2 separate regions of the Homo sapiens genome follow, and region 1 is linked to region 2. Evidence: fine-mapped expression QTL. A gene starts in region 2. The other region holds a variant in brackets. All regions are shown on one strand. Distances are from middle to middle. Region 1 overlaps CLCN1 (chloride voltage-gated channel 1). Region 2 holds the start of CLCN1 (chloride voltage-gated channel 1).

Region 1 (8,043 bases), 32 kb after region 2:
TGGGCAGATCACCTGAGGTCAGGAGTTCGAGACCAGCCTGACCAACATGGAGAAACCCTGTCTCTACTAAAAATACAAAATTAGCTAGGTGTGGTGGTGCATGCCTGTAATTAGAACCCGGGAGACGGAGGTTGCGATGAGCCGAGAACGTGTCATTGCACTGCAGCCTGGGCAACAAGAATGAAACTCTGTTAAAAAAAAAAAAATTTCCCACTAAATACAGTCAATTCTCATAATTCATGGTAGTTATGTTCAATTAAGTATGAAGTTCAAATACTATACTGAATAATTGCTCCTAGGAAAAATACAGGGCTGTGTTCCTGTGAGTCTCTGGTCACATTTCCATCAACCAATCAATATATGACCTTGTTGTATGTGTGTTTCTGGTAAAGACACCTTATTTCACAGATATTGTGGATTAATTAATATTGAACTTGTGCCAACAGCACTATAACCCTTGCCTGAATTAAGCTTACTTAACACACATATTTTCTCAATAAGGCTCATCACAGCCTTCTTGCACTAGGAACAGTAAACAGCACTTTGACATTATATTTGGTGGTCATTTTTAGCAGCAAAATCACCAACACAAAGCACAAAAATGCAAAAAGGATGGCACTAAATAGACTACAAAATGAACACCTGTTTACAATGTGAAAGCTGAAACAAGAAGGTACAGCACTGCTTTGTTCAACTTCAGCTGGGAACAGGGACATGGGACAACTAAAAATCTTTGTTGCTCTTTGCATGTTTGTGAATTACAGTGAAAGCACCTCTAGTATTGGTTTTGTGTTACAAATATATTTTAGTGACTAGCTGAATTCACAAATAGGGAATCCATGAATAATGACAATTAATGTAAATCCCATAGCTTCTTACGTTGTTCCATTTTGATGCTTACATAAGTCATGCTTGTTCTTTAATGCCCAACTTATGGAAGAGTTGGAACTGTTTTCTTTCTTCCTTCCTTTCTTTCTCTTTCTTTCTTTCCTTCTTTTTCTTTCTTTCTCTTTCTCTCTCTCTCCCTCCCTCTTTCCCTCTCTCTCTCTTTCTCTCTCCCTCCCTCTTTCCCTCTCTCTTTCTCTCTCTCTCTTTTCTTTTCTTTTCTCTTCTTTCTTTTCGACAGAGCCTCACTCTGTTGCCCAGGCAGGAGTGCAATGGCGCCATCTTGGCTCACTGCAACCTCTGTCTCCTGGGTTCTAAGTGATTCTCCTGCCTTAGGCTCCTGAGTAGCTGGGATTACAGGAATGCACCACCATGCCCAGCTAATTTTGTATTTTTAGTAGAGACGGGGTTTCACCATGTTGGCCAGGCTGGTCTCGAACTCCTGACCTCAGGCGATCCACCAGCCTTGGCCTCCCAAAGTGCTGGGATTACAGGCATGAGCCACTGTGCCCGGCTGGAACTGTTTCACATGGAGGAGTGAATGGTTGTTAGTAAACGATAATTTCACATTTCTCTGCCTTCACCATCATTTGACACTTCATCCTGCTTTGTATGATTTCTTATTGTGGTTTATATATCTATATCTTGTCTTCCTAACTAGGTGGGCATTCCTTGAGAATAGAGGCTATGAATTCTATATACCCAGAGTGCCTTGTTATAGGTATCTACTAGATATTAAATGAATAATTTCCTAGTGTTTGAATTAGTGTAATAAAGAAAAATCATGTAGGGCCATTTGGAGTCATTAAGATTGTTAGTTCTGATTTCCAATAATCAGAATATCCAAATTTCTCAAATTAAATTAATTCAAATATTTTCCCAAATCTCATATACATTCCACGTTCTACAGCAGAGGCTCTTTATTAGAGGAGGGGTACAGCCAACAAATGAGGGGCAAGGTTTTCATAATAATGACTGAGACCTAACAGTAAAATTCATCTCCAGAGCACTGCTGCAATGTCTTGGCCTTAAAACTTAATAAAAATGTTAACTATAGTAGCAAAATTTCTATAATCATATAAAAGACCTTCTCAGGAAAAGTAGGCATTTTGATTTATCCTAGCAGGGTTTTTTTTTTTTTTTTTTAATGAAATCTCGCTCTTGTCGCCCAGGTTGGAGTGCAGTGGTGCGATCTCAGCTCACTGCAACCTCTGCCTCCCGGGTTCAAGCGATTCTCCTGCCTCAGCCTCCCAAGTAGCTGGGATTACAGGCGCCTGCCACCACGCCCAGCTAATTTTTTTATTTTTGGTAGAGACGGGGTTTCACCATGTTGGCCAAGGCTGGTCTCGAACTCCTGACCTCAGGCGACCCGCCTGCCTCGGCCTTCCAAAGTAGTGGGATTACAGGCGTGAGCCACCGCCTGGCCCAGGTTTTTTAAATGATGAAATGTCAGATACAAAAGAAAGAGTTCCCTTGTTTCCCTTTTTCCAGGGAGAGATATAATGTTTGTATTGCTTATAGACTTCTTTCAAAGCGTGTTCACGTCTCAGCTTATTTGAATGGCTTCTCATGTTTCTTTTTATTTGGACAGCATTGATTAGCCTCCTTAATTATCAGCTCACCTATCTGAAGTCTATATAAGGCCTCATCAAAATAAGTACAAATTAGCCCAATTAGTGCTCTACCAATTGGCCCCGTACCTGCTAAATGGATGAAATAAAAGGGATTGAGTGAGGTTAATCTTGGAGGATTCTTAAAATGAGTTTCCAGGAAGCTGAGAAAGATGTGGGGACGCCGGGCAGGGTGGCGCCTCTCCTGTTCCTTCTCAGGAGTGCGGAGCGCGGTGGTGCGAGAGGGCTTGGAGGGGGCGCTCAGGCAGGGCGTGGGTTTCCCTCAGATTCAATGATCCTGCTGGGCTCGGTGGAGCGGTCGGAACTGCAGGCCCTCCTGCAGCGCCACCTGTGTCCTGAGCGCAGGCTGCGCGCAGCCCAAGAGATGGCGCGGAAGTTGTCGGAGCTGCCTTACGACGGGAAGGCGCGGCTGGCTGGGGAGGGGCTCCCCGGCGCGCCTCCAGGCCGGCCCGAGTCCTTCGCCTTTGTGGATGAGGATGAGGACGAAGACCTCTCTGGCAAGAGCGAGGTGACCGCGCCGGGAAGGGCTAGGGAGTGGGATAGATCAGGAGCAAAGGGAAAAGCGTCGTCTGGGCTGGGCTGGGCTGGGCTGGGACAGGCGTAGTTTCCCTGAAAGTAGTGGGAAGAGGGAGGGGAGAGTCTGGTAACTGAGAAAGCCAGAAATTCTGGATCAGGTACCATAGAGACCAGTGCCTCTGGGTCCAGGGACTAAAGAAGATAAGGTTGCAGATGATGGTATCCTCGACAATTCAAAGGGATATAGGAATTTCTGAACTGGGGGGAAGAATAGAGTTCGCTTTCCCAGAACATCCACCAACTGGTAAAGGCAGTGAAGGCCCAGGCAGTCTCTGCTCCCAGGCTGAGACTTCTTACTCTTCCTTACAGCTTCCTCCTTCCCTTGCTCTCCACCCCTCTACTACTGCCCCTCTGTCCCCAGAAGAGCCCAATGGGCCTCTGCCTGGCCACAAACAGCAGCCGGAAGCACCAGAGCCTGCAGGTGACGCTCTTCCCTCATGCACCCCAACTCACCCCTTGTGGGTTCTCTCTGGTCACTAGGACCTGACCTTGACCTGCATGCAATTCCTATGCGGGGTGGGGTGGGGGGTGAGGCTGGGGGATTGAGGGAGGACAGGGTTCTTATTCATCAATTCTCCTTGTTACTGTCCCAGGGAGTGGGAGCAGAGGGTGATTTAGGAGGGTAGAAGAGAGGGTGAGGTACCTGGGAAGTGCAGCTCTTTGGAGGCAAATGTTAGGCACTGGGTGGGGCCCCTGGCCGTTTCCTGTTGCTTTGTGTCCATTTCCATCCACTCACCTGTCCTCTCAGGTCAAAGACCCTCCATCTTCCAGTCCCTGCTTCACTGCTTGCTGGGCAGAGCTCGCCCCACAAAGAAGAAAACAACCCAGGTGAGAGGAGATGTGTTTGGGGATACAGGGGAAAGGGAGCCTGCCCTTGAAGAGTGAGAAACCCACGGTTCTTAAATCAGGAAGGCAGAGACCCCACCAAGGAGGAGGAGTTTAATCATATGGAAGGGATGATGAATGAAAAGGAGGCATCGGTGGTCCTGGCCAGGGAGGGATGGCTATTGTTTCA[T/C]TGGGAGCCATAGCTACCATGGGAAGAAAAGGGAAAGAACTTGGACCTATGTCTTTCTTCTCTAGGATTCCACAGATTTAGTGGATAACATGTCACCTGAAGAGGTGAGTAAGGGAAATGGAAACCTGGGGTGGATTGTTCTATCAAATGAAGATATTGCTAATTTGTTTCTACCTTCTTTATTGTGTTGTCATGAAATAGAATGTGGTCTGGATGGGAAGTGTTTTGAGAGGATGGAAATAAGGATGATTATGGAGAGAGTAATGAGTGTGTGATGGGACATGGAGGTGTTCTCAGAAGGACACGTCATTTCAGAAGAGAAAAACTTTGAGCCTCCATGAGTAAATGGGGCCATGGTGCTAAGATGAGCCCCAGATCTTTTAGAGATTATGGGCTTTCTGGATCAGGCAAAGCTTTAATGGAGGTAAAATGGCACCAGGAGGCTGGCACTAAAACAGCAACATAGAAGAAGAACATCAAAACTAAAATGGGAGGCCGGGCATGGTGGCTCATGCCTGTAATTCCAGCACTTTGGGAGGCCAAGGCAGGCAGATCACCTGAGGTCAGGAGTTTGAGACCAGCCTGGCCAACGTGGTGAAACTCCATTTCTACTAAAAATACAAAAATAAGCCGGGCATGGTGGCACGCACCTGTAATCCCAGATATTTGGGAGGCTGAGGCACGAAAATCACTTGAACCCGGGAGGTGGGGGTTGCAGTGAGCAGAGACTGCACCACTGCACTCCAGCCTGGGTGACAGATCCAGACTTTGCCTCAAAAAAAAAAAAAAAAAAAAAAACTAAAATGGAGAAATCTGCTCCTGGTGGAGATTACTGTGCTGGATTGATCAGGGCCCTGAGACAGTGAACAACTGGAAAATGCTAGGCATTGCTACTGGGAAGAACTGAAAAAGGAAGAAAATAATGACCACGGTGCCTCCTGGGGACAAACAAATGCCTATTTTCCTAAACGAGGTGGTTATCAAATCTTCAAGAGAGAAAAATCAAGCATTCTGAATGTGCTTGGTTGTCAGGAGGGAACAGAATGTGGACTAGTGATTGGAAGCAGGCGGTATCAGAACATACCGAGGGGTTGTGGAGGAACATCAACAGAAAAATCCATTGGCAACTATTCCATATGGTAAAAGAATGCAGAGTTTGCTGCAAACGCCGAAAACGTAAAGCTTGTAAAGTATGAAGCTGACAAAAAAAACACGGCAGATATTATTTTTAAATGAACATCTTATTGGATATCCAGAATAAATATGTGCTGACAATGAAAAGCATTACAGGATTGGAGGAGGATGTTGTGAGTGACAAGACAGAAGAGAAACCTTCCCCACCCCCTCAAAACACACACACTTCTGATAAATGACTTGTGAAAAAGTCAAATCGATGATCACAGAGGGAAAGGAAGAACTATTCCTTCTGCCCACAAGCAGGAATCAGAAAGGCCATAATTGCAGTTAAGGAGTACTTTGTTAGGTTGCTAAAACCAATAACAATAAGTTTTGCTTTTTTTCTTTTTTTTAATTTAATGCACCAAAGAGAGAAAACCAGCTAGTTGATCAGTGTGGCTATTGAATGACCACTGGAAATAAAGTGAAGCCAGGGATTAAAAATAAGATAGACTATCATTTCTAGCTTATGTCTTTCCCAGGGAAGACTTTAAGGAGCTACCAACTCCCATGTGACCCACTGAGACATTTTAGAGGGATAAGATCTAACAGGAGTTGAAATTCAGGATGTTTTGAACACAATTTTCAGACCAGATGATACCCTTGACAATATCAAGATGTTGATATTGACCAAAAAAACAGTATGGGGGCAGTATGGGAATATTGAAAGATTCAATTATATGTTGCCAGAAGTCCCTACTAGGATTTGTTTAATTCTGCATACTCTGGAGTACACACAGAGCTCTGTTTCTAACCGGTACCGAGCTTATTCAAGTAGTGGAACACACCAGCCTCAACAGCAACGTCCTGCATCCCTTGCGCAAAAGCTGGAGATGTACCTGGAATACAAACAGCAGTCAAGGTTAGAAGCCCAGCTCCACCAATTACTGACTGTGTAATCCTGGGCAAATGACTTCAACATGCTGTGCCTCTGTTTCCTCATCTATAAAGTGAAGATAATGATAGAGTTATTAGAGAAGATTAAATGAGCTAAGACGGGTAAGTCAATTAGAATAATGCTTGGCAAAGAGGATGTACTTGATAATCATTCACTGAAAATGTTGCCGCGTTATTGTTAAGGAAAGGCAAAAACGGAACATAAGGCCACAGATGATCATAGAAAAGACCAAGAGGACGGGATGGACCAAACCATGGTTGGCAAGGTCTAGCCCCCGTCCTATACCTAAATCTTCTCTACAACACACCTGCTAAGTGGTCATCCATCCTATGCTATGTAACCTCTGTAATCCATTAGTCCGGAAGATGAGAGTATAGAGGAGTCATGATTGTAATCCAGAAATATCAGGACAGGACAGGTGGAGTGAGCATCACTACGGGCTACACACCAGATCCTAAACCTATATAATGCCCTTTGGTGATATTCTCTGAAGTTTGAGAGGTGTAGATTTGGACAAATAGGAAAATAGAGTTCTAGATCATTCAGAGGATACTGACTGAAAAGAGATTTTAGAAATTTTAGAAAAATGTAAGAGAGCCAGAGATGTAATGGATTATTTGGACTCTTGGGAATTTTGGTGTGCGTATCTAAAGTCAAGAGGATGGTTGGCCTTTGTGCCTTAATGCTTCTGTCATAGACAAAAACAAACAAACAAAAACTGGCTTTGCTCAAGTCAGCTAAGTGCCATGAGGTCCAGTATAGCTCTTCAATTTCAACAAGTACCCACTACAGTTCCCTGCATGAGAGGTGATGTGCTAGTTTCTTCACAATATACAGCAGCCGATACCACATAACACTCAAGACAAATGCAGAGGTAAGACAGATGCCAATACAGCAGGAAGTATGGCCAATGTCATTTCTGAAAAGGTGAGACCAGCTAATACTATGGGAATAAAAAAGGGGAGAAGCACATCTGATTGGGAGAGTCAGGAAATACGTACACTGCAGGGAGAGGGTAGGGCAGGTAAAGGAACTCCAGATGGTCAGAATAGCAAAGACAAAGGGGAAGGCATGTTTGAAGAGCAGAAAGCAGTCTGGTTTGATTGGAGCCCCACGTCTTATAGTAGTAGTGGAAAATAGATGGGAAAGATAGGTTGGGAATAACAAATGTTTGGGACGCCAGGGGATAGGAGAGTTGGAGCCTAGAAGAGGGAGGGGTGTTCTGGGTACCTGGGGGTTGCAGGGTAGGTTGGGGGCCTGATGAGGAAGGGCAGAGAGGCTCTGTCCCCTGGGAAGAAGGAGGAGGTCCTCTGATCTGGGGGATCTATGATCAGTTCTTGCATGTTCCCAGATTCTGGGCAGCGGCTAGGAGGGCCGTTTGGGGTCAAAATCAGGTATCTGGGGTGAAAGGAGGCTCTGTGATTTTCGTGACTTTCCTCCTCTGGCTGACAGATTGAGGCCTGGGAGCAGGAGCAGCTGAGCCAGCCTGTCTGTTTTGATTCCTGCTGTATTGACCAGTCTCCCTTCCAGCTGGTGGAGCAGACAACCCTGCACAAGGTGAGTCTTTTGCTGACTGCTCAGGGCTGTGGGGAAGGCAGGAGAGCTGTGGGGCAAGGAACATGCACTGACCTGTGCTCTTCATCCTCAGACTCATACCCTGTTTTCACTCCTTGGCCTCCACCTCGCTTACGTGACCAGCATGGGGAAGCTCAGGGGCGTCCTGGCCCTGGAGGAGGTAATCACGATGTGTCCCATTTGAGCAGCAGGAGGGAGGCTGGGCATAGGATAAGGGGATGCAGTGGGGACAGAAGGAATATTAGCATCTCAGAAGTCCCCTCAGATTCCCTTCTCTATTTCTTTCT
Region 2 (11,378 bases):
CTGGTTGGTTGTACTGCAAGAAAAACAACCATGGGATAGCCTCAAGGGAAGGATACAAAATCTAGGACAGGCGAAGAAATTATGGAAATAGTGGAAGTAAGATAAATACCCATTTTCAGGATAGGAAGCATTTTCAGTGGTGTGATATGTTTGAGAATTACAGAGCAGTATCTCTGAACTGGATTCCATGTCCTCCCCGCCCCCCAACCCCCTTGCCCTTGAATAAGGGTATGAGGTTGAATTTCACAGCTCTGCTCCCTTCTGCTTACCTCTGCCAGAGGATTCTCTTCTAAAATTATTCCCCTCCCAGAGCTGGGGGCTGCCCTCTGCTGCCCTCCTCCATCCTGTTTCCTCTAATAGGGAAAAGGAAAACAGGAAGAAGGAAAAACTGTAATATCAGACCAAAGCTGATTTTTTTTTAATTTTTAAAATTTTATTCTATAAAATAGAGATGAGGTCTCACTATGTTGTTCACACTGGTTTCAAACATCTGGGTTCAAGTGATCCTCCTACCTCGGCCTCCCAGAGTACTGGGATCACAGACATGAGCCACCACACCCAACCAAAGCTGTGATATTAAGAATGGTGCCAGACTGGCCGGGCGCAGTGGCTCATGCCTGTAATCCCAGCACTTTGGGAAGCTGAGGCAGGTGGATCACCTGGGCTCAAGAGTTTGGGACCAGCCTGGGCAAAATGGCAAAACCCCGTCTCTAAAAAATAAAGAATGAGGCCAGGCACAGTAACACATACGTATAGTACCAGCTACTCAAGAGGCTAAGGAGAGAGGATTGCTTGAGCCCAGGAGTTGAAAACCAGCCTAGGCAACATAGTGAGACCCCCATCTTTAAAAAAAAAAAAAAAAAAACACACACACAACACAAGAGGAAAGACGTCTAATCTGAGAAGGAGGAAGACATTAATAATAGCTACAACTGTTTGAGTCCTTGGTATGTTGTAGGCATTGAGAGGAGCTTTCCATTTCATCTTCCCCATGCTTCTGTGAAGGAGTCATTTTCCCTTTTGTTTTTGAAACAATTTTGCTGTTGTTGCCCAGGCTGGAGTACAATGGCGTGATCTCAGCTCACTGCAACGTCTGCCTCCCAGGTTCAAGCGATTCTCCTGTCTCAGCCTCCCGAGTAGCTGTGATTACAGGCACACGCCACCACACCCAGCTAATTTTTGTATTTTTAGTAGAGATGGGATTTCACCATGTTGCCCAGGCTGGTCTTGAACTCCTGAGCTCAGGTGATTCACCCACCTCAGCCTCCCAAAGTGCTGGGATTATAGGCGTGAGTGAGCCACCGCGCCTGGCCACAAATGTAGCTTTAACGGTATGGACTCTAGAATTCAGTAGATCTGATTTTGAATGCCGGCTCTGCCTTTGAAGATATTGGAGACCTTGATCAAGGTAGCTAACACAGCCCCAATTTCCCTTATTTGAAAATGAGGAAAATTGTGTCTACCTTCCAATGTCCCTATGAGGATTAAATGTGATGATGCATGTAAATCACATGGTGTTAATGCATAAAAAATGCTTGATAAATGTTAACTCACAGAATGAGCTTCAGTTTAATATGAGTGAACAGTTCTTACTATGAATCAAACACTATAGCACATTTTTGTTTTGTTTTGAGATGGGGTCTCACTCTGTCGTGAGGCTGGAGTGCAGTGGTGTGATCTCGGCTCACTGCAATCTCCGTCTCCCGGGTTCAAGTGATTCTCCTACCTCAGCCTCCCGAGTAGCTGGGATTACAGGCGCACGCCACCACGCCCAGCTAATTTTTGTATTTTAAGCACAGACGGGATTTCACCATGTTGGCCAGGATGGTCTCAATCTCTTGACCTCGTTATCCACCCACCTTGGCCTCCCAAAGTGCTGAGATTACAGGTGTGAGCCACCGCACCCAGCCTATAGCATGTTTTTTTGCATGTGTTATTTTATCTTCTTAACCCTCTAGTTACTTCCTTTCTGAGGAAACTGAGGTCAGGATGTGAAACCAAAGCTGTCAGTTTGAGCGTATGCTAACAGCCTTGCTTCTGTGACTTATTCTGGCATGAAGGATTTTTTTCTTCCTTTTTTTGGGCTGTAAGATTCCTCCCATTGGGCTGTGGGAATGAAACTGAGACCCAAACCTTATTCCATCTTAAGTCCTAATTAGGTAGGAGTTTGGGGGAAAATGTATCATGTTTGAAAAGCCAGAAGGGGGAGAAGGAGACCTGTCGAATACTACAGGGAAAGCCTGACGTGCAGGGGATGGGAAAGGACTAAGGATGCTTAAAGAATAAGGAGGCTGGCTGGGCGTGGTGGCTCACGCCTGTAATCCCAGCACTTTGGGAGTCCGAGGCGGGCGGATCATGAGGTCAGGAGATCTAGACCATCCTGACTAACACGGTGAAACCCCATCTCTACTAAAACATACAAAAAATTAGCTGGGCGTGGTGGCGGGCGCCTGTAGTCCCAGCTACTCCGGAGGCTGAGGCAGGAGAATGGCGTGAACCCGGGAGGCGGAGCTTGCAGTGAGCCGAGATCGCGCCACTGCACTCCAGCCTGGGCGACAGAGCGAGACTCCGTCTCAAAAAAAAAAAATAAAAAAGAATAAGGAGGCAAGCCACAATAAAGAGGAGAGGAGACATGACCGCCAGTGGCATACAATACAAAGTGTCTTCAGAGGAAGTTGTAGCTTAGCTGAAATTTCAGAAAGTAGGTGGCCACGGGTTCCATGGCTGCCTGGATATGCAGAGGGAAAGTGATGACTGAAAACACCTTTAAAGAACATAAGGGTTTTACTGCCCACTATGCTGGGGAGGCCAGACTGGAAGACGTGAGAGTCTGAAAACAAGGGTGTAACCCAGAAAGAAAATTCTTTCACCTATACCCAACACAAAACTTCTCCTCCATGTATCTTGCATGGCAACTTTTTACGATTTTCCTTCAAATAGCAATTCTATAAGCCTATGGGCTTTTAAACTTTTTGTATAATGGACCCTAGGATGATCTATTTAAAACCCCAAAAGAGGCCGGGTGCAGTGGCTTACACCTGTAATCCCAACACTTTGGGAGGCCAAAGCGGGCAGATTACCTGAGGTCAGGAGTTCAAGACCAGCCTGGCCAACATGGTGAGAAACCCATCTCTACAAAAATACAAAAATTAGCCGGGCATGACCGTAAGTGCCTGTAATCCCAGCTACTCGGGAGGCTGAGGTGACAGAATCGCTCAAACCCGGGAGACGGAGGTTGCAGTGAGCAGAGATCGCGCCATTGCACTCCAGCCTGGGTGACAGTGAGACACCATCTCAAAAAATAAATAAATAAAATAAATAAAACCCGAAAGAATATATATCATTTATGCATGCTTATGAATTTGCTTCCACATTCAGGAGCCTTACAGGAATCCCTAGAAGCCCATCTTTGTGCCTCCAAATAAGAACCTAAGCTACTAAGCCCAGCGGGATGATGGAGTGAGGAGTGGGCATGGTTTACATTTTCTTTTCTTGTTCTCTTGCAGGGATTTAAACCCATGGGATTTAAACTATTCCTAATTTCAAACACAGGATATTTACTCTCAAACCCTTGCCCACCAGCACTGGCAGTCTGTACATGTCTTTGACCCTCCTAATTTCAGAATCTGGTTTTAAGAATCGCAGTTGGTGCTTTCCTTCTAGACCACACGCTTCCACTCAGCTTGGCTGGATGTGAGCACTTCCCTACTCCACTGGTCTCTGCCTTCAAATCTCAGAGTCCATGACTAGGCTGCTCTGTTTTAGGGCCCTGTCTTTCTCAGAAATAGTAAGAAAGTCATAATTGTATCTCATATCTTGCTGCTTATATTTATCAAGTTTCTACAGCAACTGATCACTTTCAGGAAAGCTATACTCCTCAAATGGGAGAATCTTGTTTCTGAAGTCCTCCAAGGAATGCAGTGTTACCTTGGCACTCTATTTTTTTGTGTGTGCAACAATGTCTTTTATTATGTATGCGGTTTTAAAATTATTTCTTGAATCTCTCCATACACAGGCAAAAAATAAGTGTGCTACTTAACATACTGGAACTTGCCTAACTTAATCATTGCCCAGAGAAGGGAAAATTATCACCAAAATGTGCTTAACCAGGAGGCCAATGCATCTGCCAACCTCCAAGAACATGGAGATGAACTTGACAGACAGACTGTCCACCATCTGAACCTTTATTCACCACCATTTGATAACCCTTATTCAGGCCCAAATCAGCAGCACATTTCTTGCCAACAATCATTAAGTGTCCAAGAAGACTTTCGTCATTATCTTCTGCTGCAGAAATCTGGGATATATGTTTTTTCGATATCAACAGAAAACGTGTTGGTGCTTGAGGGGAAGTGTCATGGAAAGCAAGGCACTGGTCATCCTCAAAAATGATTTTGGCTGGGATTTCCTTGCAGATGATCTTCCCGAAGACAGTGTTGCCACCAGGCCGAGCGACCTGAGCCTTGGCGATCTCACCTGCCATCTCTGCCTGTCTCCCACACAGCAGGCAGGGTAGAGGCTCAGAAGGAGGGAGGAACCCACAGATTCTATTTTCTTTGTTAAGAAAGTAATCCTTTCTGCTCATACCAATCCCATAGATGTCTATCCTTATTTTCTGCCTGCAGAAAAGGTGGGTATCATCACAGAATGTTTAGTCTCTCAATTCATCACACATTTGTAATTTTTTGGAGAGATTATAGGCCTTGAGGTTTGTAGGATTGTTGTTAGAGCAGGTGTTTTGTTTTTTTTTTTTTTTAGCTACATTGGTGTATAATTGACAACTAGAAATTATACATATTTAATTACTACTTGAGACCGTGATTACAGCAGTTACTACTGTTACCACTTGAAACCATCATTATGACCGAACAAAGGGACGAATGTAGAAATGAAAACTTAAGACAAAAGAAACTGTTTTAAGGAAAGGCAACATGAAGAAGAAGAGAGCTCCCTGCTTCTAGTGAGCAAAGGCAGCTCCCCTGCCGAGCTTCTCAGCCCTTCATATTTACTGGGTAACAAGAACAAGAAGGAGGTAACGATTGGTCAGCTGCTGAATTGATCACAGGTTCATATTGTTACTGACAAGCTTCAATTGTACCTAATCATAAGAAACATTTGTGCGGCCTCCAACAATGTACAACTTGATGTGTTGATATATGTGTACATTGTGAATGATCATCACAATCAAGCCGGTTAACATATCCATCACCTCACATAGTTGCTTTGGGGGTGCAGGGAGGTGAGAACATTCAAGATCTACCCTCTTAGCAAATTTCAAGTATGTGGTATTACTACCTATAGTTACCATGCACATTAGATCTCCAGGACTTTCTCATCTTGTATAAGTGAACCTTGTATCCTTTGACCAAATTTCCCCATTCTCCCACCCCCTACTCCAGCCCAGCCCCTGGCAACTACCCTCTACTTTCTGCTTCTATGAGTTTGACTATTTTAGATTCCACATACAAGTGCAATCATGCAGTATTTTTCTTTCTGTGTCTGCAATGTTTGACTTAGCGTAATGTCCTCCAAGTTCATCCATGTTGTCACAAGTGGCAGGATTTTCTTCTTTGTCAGGGTTGAATAGTATTCCATTATATATATTTATATACACATGACATTATTCATCTGTTAGTGGACACTTAGGTTGTTTCCATTTCTAGGCTATTGTGAATAATGCTGTAATGAACATGGGAGTGCAGATACCTCTTTGAGATACTGATTTCCTTTCCCTTGGATGTATGGGAGTTGCTGAGTCATATGGCAGTTCTGTTTTTACCTTTTGAGGAACTTTTATACTGTTTTTCATAATGACTATACCAGTTTACATTCCCACCAACAGTGCACAAGGGTTCCCTTTTCTCTGCATTCTCACTAACATTTATCTCATCTTTTTATTTAATTTTTTTTTGAGACATAATCTCACTCTGTAGACCAGGATGGATTGCAGTGGTGCCTTCCCAGCTCACTGCAGCCTCCACCTCCCGGGCTTCAGTGATCCTCCTGTCTCAGCCTCCCAAGTAGCTGGGACTACAGGCGTGCACCACCACACATGGCTGATTTTTATAATTTTTATAGAGACAGGGTCTCCCCATGTTGCCAGGTTGGTCTCGAACTGCTGGGCTTAAGCATTCCACCCGCCTTGGTCACCCACATTGCTGGGATTATAAGCATGAACCATAATATCCATAGCCATAATAATGGCTATCTCTTGCTTTTTTGATAATAGCCATCCTAACAGGTATGAGGCGATATTGCATTATGATTTTGGTTTCCTGATGATTAATGATGTTGAGGCCCTAGAAAAAGTACTTTTAATGATATTGGCTTCCCTCCTGCTTTGGGTGGTTCCATTTAGCCTAGGTCAAAATCACATTGTAGACCAGATGTTTGGTGTCCCTACCCTGCAGTCCCTGAACTTGGACTGTCCTGGGACAGACCCCACTTGGTAATGCATCCTAAACTTTACTTTGGCTCAGTTCATATCTTTTCTCCTACAGTGAAGAGTTCATAGGGAAGACATGTCATAGGAAAATTGGTTTTATAACGTGATGCCAGGAAGAAAAGTTTGTCCTTGGCCAAAAAAGTATTTATTGACCTGAAAAGGGAAGAATAGCAGAGAGCACTTCCCCATCATCTTTCATGTTTGTCGGGCTTGTCATGAGAAGCCCTCACCCCTTTCCCACCTCTCCCTTCCCTGTGCCTCTTTCTACTTTCGATTCTCCCCTGTTATCTCCCTTGTTATCTATCTGATGGAGCCAGTGTGGGCACTCCACAGTCCAAATGGAAGCTCAGTCCCTCCGGGTTGGCAGTGTGGCTGACACCTAACAGTCTGGGAAGTGGGAGAAATTCTAGAACCCAAGGCTATTACCGACCCTCGACTTCCCACTTCCCATAAGTGTTCCACACCCAGTGAGTGATAAGGATGGGATCAGGGGATGCCCCCAAGCTGTTATTAGCAGCCTCTGGCAGACAGAAGGGCAAAGAGCTAGAGAAGAACGCTGGACATGGGATGGGCTGGCAGAGCTGGCCAGACAGAACCCTGGGTGGACACAGAGTTGGGAACAAGCTGGCCAGGAGATGTGGCAGAGAGGCACCAGTTACTTTCCCAGGTGAGTTAATGTGCCAGTGTTTCCAGAACTTCGAGTCGCTTCATCTTTATCCAGCACCCACCCCTCACCTTCCGCATCCTGAAGAAGAGAGATGGGCAACTGGAGGGCTTCCATGCAGATCCGGCTCTACACATAGGTTTGAGAGCATACTCAGCAGTTTCTCATCCTGGTCCAGGCGATATTTATAGAGGGACCAGTGACATGGAGCTGGAAGCCTACTACTGGTGACTAAGAAGGGGGACAATGCCACTGGCTCAGCAGAGGGAATTCCCTGTGGGGCTGTCCCTCAGGTTCTCATCCCAACCCCCACCCCCACACTGCACTCACACCTGCTTCGACCCCAAGCAGATCAGATGTGGCAGTGGGGGGTCATGTGACGGAGAGGGGTCTATAAATAGCTGGAGGTGGGCATGCTGCCCCAGACGCCTTGGGGACAGCAAGAGCAGAGGCTTAAGGAGCTACACTGGGGGAAGGACAGGGGCAAGCAGGCCAAGGCCTGGCCGGGGCTCGGGGGGAGGGAATATGGAGCAATCCCGGTCACAGCAGCGTGGGGGTGAACAAAGCTGGTGGGGTAGTGACCCCCAGTACCAGTATATGCCCTTTGAACACTGCACCAGCTACGGACTGCCCTCTGAGAATGGGGGCCTCCAGCACAGGCTCCGGAAGGATGCAGGCCCCCGCCACAACGTCCACCCCACACAGGTAAAGTGCTCTAAGGGGAGAGGGGAGCCATGGATGAGGGGAGACAGTGGTGCCAGAGACTGGTGAAAATGAGGAATTGGGTGAAAAGAGGGAGCAGTGTTACATTTTTTTAACTTAAAAAACAAGTACGTGGTGATGTGTTCAAAATATGAAAATCTTTGAAAGTCTGGGCTCACTTAAGTATGCACTTAGAGAGATATGCATGCACTTTCATACAACCTTTACCAACAGAGTACCCAAATCATATGGGGAAACAGCAGAGCCTCACATGCATGAATAGCTCGTGCTTACATAACCTACGTGGAGTGGATTGCGTAGGAGCCCACACTGCAGTGTGCTGGGAGCTGTCTCCCACACCCTCACCCACAGGTAGACACTGCCAGATTTCTGCCTCTGGGACCCTCTGCAGAATACACACAAACATGAATCTTTCTGCAGAAGGCAGAAGAAAGGAATTGGGCAAGTGTAGAAAACAGACTGAATTGCTTATCAGTGATCAAAGATCTACCAACGTCAAAATGAGCAGAGATGTACAAGCTTTTAGGTCGCAAGATGATCAAGTAAGAACCTATTAAGTGTTAGGCACCTGGAAAAGGGCAGAGATGTGATCCCAGCAACAGAAGCATGCAGGCTAATTAGGAGTGTCTATGGATGAGCAGCCTCCCGCTGTGGGATTGGTGGGATATGAACACCTAGGAAAGGGGGAATGGGGATGGGCACAACTAAAGGAAAGGTTGTGAAATTGTCATGGAAAAAGATAGGTCATGGTTAATAAGTAAGTGTGCCTCTCCCTCCAAAGAATGCAGAGAATAACAGAGGATAGAATTTGTCTAGAGGGCAGTTGGCCAGAACTTTTTTTTTTTTTTTTTTTTTTGAGATGGAGTCTCGCTCTGTCTCCCAGGCTGGAGTGCAGTGGTGCTATCTTGGCTCACTGCGACCTCCGCCTCCCGGGTTCAAGCAATTCTCTTTCCTCAGCCTCCTGAGTAGCTGGGATTACAAGCACCTGCCACCATACCTGGCAAATTTTTGTACTTTCAGTAGAGACGGGGTTTTGCCATGTTGGCCAGGCTGTCTCGAACTCCTGACCTCAGGTAATTCACCCGCCTTGGCCTCCCAAAGTGCTGGAATTACAGGTGTTAACCACTGTGCCCAGTCTGGTCAGAACTTAAAAGGCTTTTTTTTCTTTCTTTTTTTTTTTTTTAACAGGGAGCCTTCAGTTCCTTTAGGTTTAAGGCTGGGAAGCTGAGGCATGAGCTATGCAGGGGATCTCAGCACTGGGGGTCAAAAGGATCTGCTCTCAGTCCCTGACCAACCCCCAGGAGTATTTGCAAAGGCAGCGCTAGGGACCCAGTAGGGAAGAGGGACATACAGGTCAGTGTAGGCTGGAATCGAGCATTGGGAAGGTTTCTTGGAGACAGCGGGGTCTGACTAGGCCTTTGAACACTGTGTGGGATCAGCAGGAGGGAAGACCCCTCCCCCTGGCCCTGTGTTCTCACTCGTGTACATGGTTGTATCTGGGTGGGATGGCAACTTGAGTAACAGTGCCATTATGGCACTTCCTGATGACAGTTCTCGTGTTGGGAAGCTATGGTTAGTTTGGGGAGTAGAATTGGCCTGTTTTCTACAGGTCTCAAAAGTAAACAAGAGTTTGGATTAGTTTTTCTTTGTTTAATTTTTATTATGGAAGACTTACACAAAAATGGAATGGTATAGTGAAGCCCCAAGTACCCACCAGTTGTCAATATTTTGTCACTATTGTTCCATCTATTCTTCCCTTCCCCACCCTCACCACTCTACACACCATGGAATACTTTTTTTTTGTTTTTTGTTTTTTGTTTTTTGTTTTTGAGATGGAGTTTCGCTCTTGTTGCCCAGGCTGGAATGCAATGGCGCGATCTCAGCTCACCGCAATCTCCGCCTCCCTGGTTCAAGCAATTCTCCTGCCTCCGCCTCCCAGGTAGCTGAGATTACAGGCATGCGCCACCATGCCTGGCTAATTTTTGTATTTTTAGTAGAGACGAGGTTTCTCCATGTTGGTCAGGCTGGTCTTGATCTCCTGACCTCAGGTAACCTGCCCATCTCAGGCTCCTAAAGTGCTGGGGTTACAGGGGTGAGCCACTGAGCCTTGCTTCCACCTTGGAATACTTTTTAACAAATCCCAGACATTGTATCACTTGTAGACTTGAGTTTTGACTTCTCCCTTGCCCTCCCCTCACCCTGCCCTGCATGGGACCAGCCAGAACAGATCTGGCCCTTTAAGTGTTTTCCCAGCCCAGGTATGATGATATGAAGCAACCCCCTTCCTTGTCTCCACTGGCCTGGGGCCTTGAGGAGCTGAGACAGCCTCAGCTGTCTGACTTCCACTGGGAAGTATGTTCTCTCTCTGGGTCCCACGCAGGGTTTGGAAGGAAACACTGCCTCCCTCGGTCACTGACCCAGAAGACAAACAGCCATGAGCAGGGCAATTCATGTGCGTGCTTGTTCAGGACTGCGGTGTAAAATGCTGCTCATATTGTGAAATCAGATCTCTTCTACTCAGGCTCTCCCAGAATCCAGCAACATGGCCTGGCCTGACCCTGGCCCCAGAGGACAGTTAGTGTAGTGGGAGTGGGGCAGGCTAAAAGTGGTTGGAGCTCTTGTATACCCCACACAGACACACGTGCTCTGCCTCAGGATGGAAGCGGAGGGCCACCAGACCTGGGGGAGCTGCTCTGTCCTCTTCACATGTGGGGCAGGTAGGGGTCTAATTATCTAGCTGTGGGAAGAAGTAGATGGACCTGCCTTTTCGGGCTAGTTCTTGTGTGTGCATACAAGCACTGGGAGATGAAGTGGATGGTCTTGAAGCTTGATAGAGGACCTGAGGTGCCTCAGGTAAGGCTAGACACACCAAGGCAAAGTGCAACCAAGACTGCCCTGCTAGTTAGCCCAGTCTGTCCTCACCCTGTTCATGTTAGGAGAAAAGTCAATGCAAGTGGTCTGGGGAAATTGTGGGACATACAGAAAGCGCAGTGACACAAAACACCTGATTGATATGGCCACCTGGGTTCAGCACAGTTCTGTACCTCTGCTTCAAAGCAAAAACTGGCCTCCTTGATAAAGGCTACCCTGGATCAAGGTGAGTACAGGTTGGAGAATGGGTGTAGAGAAGGTAGGATGAATGAACAAGGGAAAGGGTGGGAAGTGTGGGAATGGAGGGTGGAGAGTAGAGGGCAGGGATGACCACAAAGTCACCCTGCATGCAGTCAACACCCAGAATTCAAAAAGCTGTTGTTCTTTTCTTCTGTGAGTCTGTCTGCTGGCCTCTGTCTATTATTTTTTTAGTCTTCCACAAGGCAGACACTGATCATTCTCTCTCTGTCCAGATTTATGGCCATCACAAAGAACAATTCTCAGACAGGGAGCAGGACATAGGGATGCCCAAGAAGACAGGCTCCAGTTCTACCGTGGACAGCAAGGATGAGGATCACTATTCTAAATGTCAAGGTGATGGGGACTGAGGAATAAAGAAATCTGGAGTAGAAACAGGTACAGGGATTAGGAGAATAACTTGGGCATCCCATTGCA

Evidence for each region.
Region 1: its variant is fine-mapped to the expression of CLCN1 in whole blood (INTERVAL, PIP 0.98).

Annotation. Positions count from the first base shown.
Region 1 is chr7:143,342,739-143,350,781 of GRCh38, forward strand. It overlaps CLCN1 (chloride voltage-gated channel 1), which reads left to right. Exons shown (of 23, transcript NM_000083.3): 17 at 2,783-3,024; 18 at 3,402-3,513; 19 at 3,841-3,920; 20 at 4,173-4,211; 21 at 7,634-7,738; 22 at 7,830-7,916. Among named protein-coding and RNA genes, the nearest start is that of FAM131B-AS1, 15 kb to the right of the region's middle. RefSeq lists silencers at 2,678-2,972, 2,779-2,858. The variant T/C (reference allele first, on the strand shown) is at 4,108.
Region 2 is chr7:143,308,579-143,319,956 of GRCh38, forward strand. CLCN1 (chloride voltage-gated channel 1) reads left to right here and starts at 7,533. Exons shown (of 23, transcript NM_000083.3): 1 at 7,533-7,814; 2 at 11,177-11,297. The coding sequence starts at 7,635. It also overlaps the pseudogene HINT1P1.